2 separate regions of the Homo sapiens genome follow, and region 2 is linked to region 1. The links come from fine-mapping of genetic effects on gene expression. A gene starts in region 1. The other region holds a variant in brackets. All regions are shown on one strand. Distances are from middle to middle. Region 1 holds the start of SLC4A1 (solute carrier family 4 member 1 (Diego blood group)). Region 2 has its middle 23 kb from the start of SLC4A1.

The links. PIP is the estimated chance that this variant, and not a neighbour inherited with it, causes the effect.
Region 2: its variant is the best candidate, but not a certain one, in a credible set for the expression of SLC4A1 in whole blood (INTERVAL, PIP 0.84).

The regions. Positions count from the first base shown.
Region 1 is chr17:44,265,851-44,270,234 of GRCh38, forward strand. SLC4A1 (solute carrier family 4 member 1 (Diego blood group)) reads right to left here and starts at 2,285. Exons shown (of 20, transcript NM_000342.4): 1 at 2,204-2,285.
Region 2 is chr17:44,243,235-44,247,574 of GRCh38, forward strand. No RefSeq gene overlaps it. Among named protein-coding and RNA genes, the nearest start is that of SLC4A1, 23 kb to the right of the region's middle. The variant G/A (reference allele first, on the strand shown) is at 2,774.

The DNA of each region.
Region 1 (4,384 bases):
CATGCCTGTAATCCCAGCTACTCAGGAAGCTGAGGCAGGAGAATCCCTTGAACCAGGGGGCAGAGGTTGCAGTGAACCGAGATTGCGCCACTGCACTCCAGCCTGGGCAACAGAGCGAGACTCCGTCTCAAAAAAAAAAAAAAAAGAAAGAAAGGGATGTGCAAACAGCCTTCTTTCTGAGGAATGGGTGACCCTGCAGTCCTGGGGGTAGGGAGGGGATTACTGGATCTCACCAGACTGGAGAATGGGAGAGACCCCTGCCTTGGCAGGTGGGGCAAGTGATGGGGTGCGGGGGAGGGGTCCTGGACCTGAGGACGAGGTAGTCCCTACTGCAGGGCTTGGCTTTGCTCCTGAGGACCCTGATGACCCACCTCTTCTCTCTCTTTTTCCTCCTCCCTCTCTGCTTCTCCCAAAGTTCCTCTTTCTCTTCCATCTTTATTCACTTTCTTCCTTCTCTGGACTTGCCCATGCACTTTCTTAGGCCTCAGATGCTAAGGCCTCCAGGGTGTCTAAGCCTTAGGTACTAAAAGTCCCACCCATGGGGCTGGGACTGTGGCCTTGGTTGCCTATCTGAGGAGTGGAATGGTCAGAGGGGCCCTCAGAGCTGCAGAATCCAGAGGTCCAGGCTGCCTCTCTGCCACTGACTGGCTGAAGGGCCTTGGGCAGCTTCCAGCCTGTAGGCCTCAGTCACCCCATCTGTACAATGGGAGTGCCTTCCTGCCAGGGTTCTGAGACATCAGTGAGAGAGAAGAGGGGAAAACAGAGGTGCCTTGAGCTCAGTTGGAGACTTACAGGGCGCACCCATGACCCAGATTGCCACCCGCCAGCCAGGCCGCCCCCCAGCTGCAGGCCTTGTGCTGCCTAGCACTGATAAGGGCCTGGACCCAGATCGCTGCCCCAAGTTTTGGAAGTGCACCAAACACCTGGCCAGCTAGCCAGCTGGCCAGGGCCAGGCCAGATAAGGGTGAGCGGGACATCTGAGCCTAGAAGGTATAGCACAGCTGGGAAGACACGGCGGGAGAGGGGATTGACCAGATGACAGGGACAACTTCCTAGTGGTATGGCACCACCTTTGTGTAATCAGCCCGAACTGCACAAAGAACTGTACTGCCTTAACTCTTAGAATCCCCAAAGCATTCTGTGAAGTGGTTTGGGGATTCTAAGAGGAAGAAGAGTAATGTCATTAATCCATTCTACAGATGCGAAAGCTGAGGTTCAGAGACATTTACCTGCTTCAGCCACCCAGCAGGTAGGTATCAGAGCCAGGTTACAGCCTGGACTACCTGACTCCAGCCACATCCCTAAGCACTATGCTAAGTTGCCTCCAACAAAACAACTGTTAGCTGGTTTAGAGTTAGTTGTTAAGATCACGGACTCTGCAGTCGGACTGCCTGGATTCAAAGCCCAGCCCTGCCATTTACTAACGGCGTGTGACTTCAACTCTCTGTGCCTCAGTTTTCTCATCTGTAAAATGGGGGTGATGATAATGATGCCCATCTCATAGACCTGTTGTAAGCATTAAGGAAATTTACATTTGTAAGGGGCTTAGAACAGTGCCTAGCATATAAGGAGCGCTATGAAAATGTTTGCTGTCATTATCCCTTGCTGCTGGGGTTACAGTCAGACTTGCCATCTTCATTTCCCCTCTGATTTGCCCTCAGTTCCCATGGAATTAGCCTGAGCTAAGTGTTTTGAGATTCTCATGTGGTAGGAGGCTCTGCAGTTCCCTCCAATACTGACCACGCTGGGCGTGGAGCCAGGTGCCCCAGGTAGACCCCTGGAAGTGTCCCAAAGGGGATACTGTGTCAGCTGACATCCTGCCTCCTAGGTGGGAGAGGGGGTGGTCTGAGGACCCCATTAGGAAGGAAGGAGTCTGGGGTGGACAAGACCTGACCCTGTGGGATCCAACAAGCTGACAAGGGCCCATACCTGGAGGGGATCAGATACCCCCCGCAACACACGCACCGGAGCCACACATACCTCTGCTGCCATTGACCACCTGCCACCCTCCTCTTTTCAGGTGCCAATGGGCCTGTTCCCTTAGGGGCAACATATGCATGGTAACATTCTCACCCCACCCACCTGCACCCCCTTGGAGGTCAGGAGCCTGGCCCACCTGGGCATAGATTCAGGCTGGGCACCTGTAGAAGCCCTCAGGGCAGGCACCGAAGGACCATCCCCAGCCCCTCCCTGCCCTGCCCACCTGCTCACGAGCCTCAGGGTCCCTTGGTGAAGTCCTGCAGCCGCTGGTGCCCTCTGCGACCAGCTACGTTCCCACTCGTTCTGACAGCACCAGCGCCCCAGGGGCAGCTCGCAAACCCCTGACTCATGCCCCCGCCTCCTAATCTGCCCGCCCCACTGGCCCTGGGAGCCCCTTCCCACACCCCCCACCCCGCTCCCACTGGGTGCCCAGTAAACAGAGTTATCTCTTACCCACATCTGGACAGCTGTGAGTCTGGCCCACCCCACCCGCCTGGCCAGCCCCCAAGGCCTCTCGGGGCCCTCCTGGTCCCCATGGTTCTCCTGACTCTTCCTTTGTGGATGAAGGTTTGATCGCTCTGTCCTCAGGGCTCCCAGTGCCCTGGCAGGAAGGCACCAGCCTCCAGAGGTCCCTGTCCTGCCTCTGTCCATCCTCCACTCTGGCCAGGCCCTTCTGCTCTGGCCCCAAGGTGCAAGGGCGCCTGCTCCTCTCGTCTCTCTTGGTATCCACGCTAGGACTCACTCCTCCTCTGCAGTTTTCTCCACAGGGAACTGCTCAGCACTCACGGGGCACGGACAGCCCCCTCCCCTCCTTGATCCAGACTAGGATGCCCCAGCCACATTCTCCCCAAGACCCTGGCTGGTTCTAAAGAGCTGGCTCCTGGACACTAAGACACTGACATTCAGTCAACCTGAAACAATGTCAGCTCAACAAAACAACCATCCCCACACCAAGCTCTTCAACTCACAAAGCTCTAATGTCTGGGCATACTGGCTCCTCTGTAGGCAGCCTGGCTCAGGCCCCCAGGCCAGAACAGCCGCATTCTCAGCCCCTGCCATGCCCCTCCCCTTCAGTTCCCACCCCTACACCCCCAGTTTCTCTGCTCTGGGGGGTGACCAGAGCCTGGTCACCTCTTCGTAGGCTCTGGTTGCTAAAGAGGCAGAGACTGAAAGATGAGTACAGATCAGCAAGAATGAAGAGGGGTTTTCAAGCAGACAGAAAGGGGTGTTGTGGCCATCGCTCTGGGCACAGAGAGGAGGGTGTCCTAGTACAGCTCCGGCATGGACTGGCTGAAGGAACCTGGACAAGTCCCTGGCCCTCTCTGGGCTTCTGTTTTCTCATCCGTAAAGTGAGAGTGTTGGGTTATGTGGCCACCAGCCTGAAGTTCAGACTCAAGCAGAAGAAACTCAAACACAGGGACACACAGGTGGACAAATCCCGCCACTGCAAGACCATTCACTATCTGCACCACAAGCCTGCCAGGGGCTGAGTCCTGTGGAGAGAGAAAAGGGGAGGGACACGGGTCCTGAGGCAGAATCCTGTTTATGGAGGACCTCGGTTCCAGGAATTATGCTGAGGCCTTCATCTTGTGGTCACGCTGGATTCCTACAAACCCCCCACTTCACAGAGGAGGAAACAAAGCCACAGAGAGGCTTTCCCAGGAAAAAGAATGCCCAACGGACCAGCACCTGCCCCGTGCAGTGCACCATGCCTGGACTTCACACGCTCTAGCTTGCCAAGCTCTCTAAGCCCATCTGAGGACAACACTGTTTACGATGTTTATTCACCTCTCACAGAGAAAGGGCAGCAAAAGGAGAGCAGTGACTTGCCCAAGTCCTCTGGGCTGGTGAAGCCAGCGTGGGCACTCCGACCTGCTAATCTGCCTGGACAGCTGGTGTTCTGCCAGATCTGAGCCCCTCCCACCACCCAGGCCTTGGTGCCGGTCAGGAACAGAGAGAGGCCCTGGCTAAAGGGGGCTGGAGGTGCCTTCTCCTGCTCCAGCTGGTGGGATCTGTCCCAAACCCTGGGCCCACACTGGGTTGGCTTCCTATGGCCTGTGGCAGTGAGTGCCAAGTGAAGACCTTTGACTCCTTGACCCAGCCAGTGTGCCCAGTCCCCTTGCCCCTCTGCCTGCCCTAGGAGTCAGAGACAGCTGAGTGCAGGGGGCAGCAATGGGGCACCTCTCCTGGGGCCCGGGAAGGACTGACAGCTGGCTGGGGGTGGAACAACAAATGGCATCATCTGGCTTAGGGGGAAAATCTGGCCAGCTGTTTGGCTGTTCTGCAGGCACCACCCCCTGGCAGCCCCACCAGACAGCCAGGCAGAGGCACAGCAGCTTGGACGCTGGTTCTTTCCACTCACACCACATGTTCTAGATCATTCTTGTTGCCCTGGCTGAATGTA
Region 2 (4,340 bases), 23 kb before region 1:
GTACATTTTGAGACAATTTAGATATGTTGGTTATGGATTAGATATGAGATGATATGAAGGTATTACTGCTAATTTTGTTGGGTGTGATAGCATTGTGGTTAGGTTCAATGATGGGGGCATGCATAGCTAAAGAATATAGGGGTGAGGCCGGGTGCGGTGGCTAATGCCTGTAATCCAGCCCTTCGGGAGGCCGAGGTGGGTGGATCACAAGGTCAGGAGATCGAGACCATCCTGGCTAACACGGTGAAACCCTGTCTCTACTAAAAATACAAAAAATTAGCTGGGCGTGGTGGTGAGCGCCTGTAGTCCCAGCTACTCGGGAGGCTGAGGCAGGAGAATGGTGTGAACCTGGGAGGCAGAGCTTGCAGTGAGCCAAGATCATGCCACTGTACTCCAGCCTGGGCAACAGAGCGAGACTGTCTCCAAAAAAAAAAAAAAAAAAAAAAAAAAACAATATAGGGGTGAAATGGCATCAAGTATGGGATTTAAAGTATTTCAGCAAAGGATAAAAAGAGGAAGATAAAGCAAATGTATTATTTTCGGCAAAGATTTAAGCAAGATTTCAAGGCGTAATTTTGATAATTTTTGTTTTTATTTTATCATTATTATTATTATTATTATTTTTGACAGAGTCTCACTCTGTCGCCCAGGATGGAGTGCAGTGGTGCCATCTTGGCTCACTTGCCTCCTGGGTTCAAGGGATTCTCCTGCCTCAGCCTCCCGAGTAGCTGGGATTACGGGCACATGCAACCACACCCAACTAATTTTTTTTTTTTTTTTTTGAGACAGAGTCTTGCTCTGTCGCCCAGGCCAGAGTGCAATGGCACGATCTCGGCTCACTGCAACCTCTGACTCCCGGGTTCAAGCGATTCTCCTGCCTCAGCCTCCCGAGTAGCTGGGACTACAGGCACGTGCCACCACACCCAGCTAATTTTTGTATTTTTAGTAGAGGTGGGGTTTCACCATGCTGGCCAGATGGTCTTGATCTCTTGACCTTGTGATCCGCCTGCCTCGGCCTCCCAAAGTGCTGGGATTACAGGCGTGAGCCACCGTGCCCCGCCTAATTTTTGTGTTTTTTAGTAGAGACGGGGTTTTGCCAGTTTGGCCAGGCTGGTCTTGAATTCCTGACCTCAAGTGATCCTCCCGCCTCAGCCTCCCAAAGTGCTGGGATTACAGTGTGAGCCACCGCGCCCGACCTATTTTAGTATTATTTTTTAAGAGAATAAGTTTGGCTCTGTTGTCCAGGCTGGCATGCAGTGGCATGATCTTAGCCTTGAACTCCTGGGCTCAAGCGATCCTCCCCCCTCAACCTCCCACAGTGCTGGGATTACAGACATTAGCCACCATGCCCAGCTGATAATTTCTGAATTTGACAAATGAGTATATTGGGATTCATTCTCTACTTTTGTGTATAAAAATTTTCATAATAAAATTTAAAACAACAACAGTGACACATATTTTCAAGAACCCATTCATATAAAAAGAAACAAATTAAACAAGTTAGAATGGTTGCTGTGGAGGGGGAAGAACATAGGAGTAGGGAATGAAGACAAAAGAGAAGGAGCAGGCCGGGTGTGGTGGCTCACTCCTGTAATCCAGGCACTTTGGGAGAACGAGGCAGGAGGATCACTTGAGGTAAGTCAGGAGTTCGAGACCAGCCTAGGCAACATGGTGAAAACCCATCTGTACTAAAAAATGCAAAAATTAGCCCGGCATGGTGGCAGGCGCCTGTGATCCCAGTTTCTCAGGAGGCTGAGGCAGGAGAATCACTTAAACCCAGGAGGCAGAGGTTGCAGTGAGCCAAGATCATGCCACTGCACTCCAGCCTGGGTGATAGAGCAAGACTCTGTCTCAAAAAAAAAAAAAAAAAAAAAAAAGAAAGAGGGCTGGGCACGGTGGCTCATGCCTGTAATCCCAGCACTTTGGGAGGCCGAGGTGGGCAGATCACGAGGTCAGGAGATCAAGACCATCTGGCTAACACGGTAAAACCCCGTCTCTACTAAAAATACAAAAAATTAGCCGGGTGTGGGTGCGGGTGCCTGTAGTCCCAGCTACTCAGGAGGCTGAGGCAGGAGAATGGCATGAATCTGGGAAGTGGAGCTTGCAGTGAGCTGAGACCGTGCCACTGCACTCCAGCCTGGGCAGCAGAGCGAGACTCCGTCTCAAAAAAAAAAAAAAAAAAAGGATGAAGAAAAGAAGAAATGAGAAAAGAAGGAACGGAAACAAGAACAGTTGATGATAACCTGCCCTGACCTCAGGAGGATGACTAATTTAACCCTCTGCACCTAAAGTCCACAAGAAGGAGAAAAATAAAATGATATCTCCTATAACTCTACCATGGTGGCATTTTAACTTTCTGTCTAAGCCTCGAACCCTCACTCCTGTGCACCCTACTGTATGTTTCTATGTGGCTGTCACCATGAGGAACACATCACTATGAATTTTTGCCTGCGAAAATGCAGCACTGGGCCGGGACTTCTGGATATATGATATCATTTTATCCTCTTAACAACATTGTGAGGTGAGTATCATTATCTCTATTTTACAGATGCCTTTAACCTCAGAGATCAGGCTATTCAGCCAACTCCTACTACTAATAAATCACAAAGCTGGCACTTTGGGAGGCCAAGGTGGGATGATTGCTTGAGGCCAGGAATTCAAAACCAGCCTAGGCAACATAATGAGACCTCATCTATACAAAACAAAATGAAAAAACAAATCACAAAGCTGGTATTCCAAACACCTTGGCCTCAAAGGCCCAGGGTCATGTGAT[G/A]CCATTAAGTTGATCCAATAGCTTCCTCATAATTATTAAGGTCTGCCTAGTGGTCCATTCTATTGATGGAGGGTAATTTACTGTAATTTACTAACTGCTGTCCTATTTCTGAGTATTTGGGCTCTTTCTAGCTTTCTGCTCACATAGATAGTCCTCTAAATTATCTTCAGGCCCAGAGCTTTTTGAGTCTGTTGAATTACTTCCTTATCAGGGTGGGGTTCCTTTGTGTTCACACACAAATGTTGACCTCATTACAGTAGTTCATTCTCGTTGACATGGTTTTCACAAAAGAGTTGAATGGACAAGCAGGAGTTAAAACCCAGAGACTGGCCAGGTGCGGTGCCTCACGCCTGTAATCCCAGCACCGTGGGAGGCCCAGGCGGATGGATCACGTGAGGTCAGGAGTTCCGGACCAGCCTGGCCAACATGGTGAAACCCCGTCTCTAATAAAAGTACAAAAATTAACCACGGTGGTGGCTTGAGCCTGTAATCCCAGCTACTCGGGAGGCTGAGGCAGGAGAATCTCTTGAACCCAGGAGGTGGAGGTTGCAGTGAGCTGAGATCGTGCCGCTGCACTCCAGCCTGGGCCACAAGAGTGAAACACCGTCTCAAAAAAAAAAAAAAAAAAAAGAAAACTCCCCAAAAAACCCAGAGACTGTGTGTGTGTGTGTGTGTGTGTGTGTGTGTGTGTGTCTGTGTGTCTGTGTGTTGGGGGATGGGGGATCATGTGAGGTACAGGAAGTTGGGGTAGTGTGAGGCCTCCGGCCAGGCAGGAAGTCAGTCTGGGGGGATTCCTGTGTCCCCCACATTTCCCTAATGCCTTCCTGGCCCAAGCTGTTTGGGGTCTGAGGTGCAACAAGGGGAATTAGGCAGGCTGTGGTCCAGCCACTCTCTCTTTGCCCTGATACCCCGCCCCTACCCCAGGCCCCCTCTACTCCCTCAAGAAGGCCTCCGAATCTTCTCTAAGGGTGGGAGGAGTGGGATGGATGAGCAGAAACCTGAAGTCTGCACACCCTCGCTCTGCTCCCTGGCTCTCTGTTCTTAAGGCCCAGCTTCCCGTGCTGGACATCACCTGGGGATCTGGTTAAAATGCAGATTCTTATTTCTCAACTCTGGGGCAGGGCCTGAGCTCCTAGATTACTGGCAAGCTCCCTAGAAATGGCACTGCTGCTGGTCCCAGAGCCCCACTGTGTAGCAATGCCCTAGGGATTCTGGCCAGGGTCCCAGCCTCCCCTGCTGCCCAAGCTCCAGGTAGTGTTTCAGAATTGCAATTAAAAACATGGAGAGGGGCTTAACCCTTGGCAGGGGCAGGAAGTGGTCCCCCAAATTGAGGCAGCATTTATTCCCCTAAGTCCAGATATGATGAGCTGGAAAAGGATGGAAAGGATCCTTTTCCAGGCGATGGAAAGGATCTACCAGGAAGAATTAGCCCAGTAGAAAACGGAGACCCAGAGAGGGGACTGGCTTTTCCCAGGTTGCACAGCCAGCCTGTGGAAGAGGCCTGGGGATGCCGGTGGCCTGAGCTCTCTTCAGGCTTGTCTCATAGCCTGACTTCTGGGTACATGGA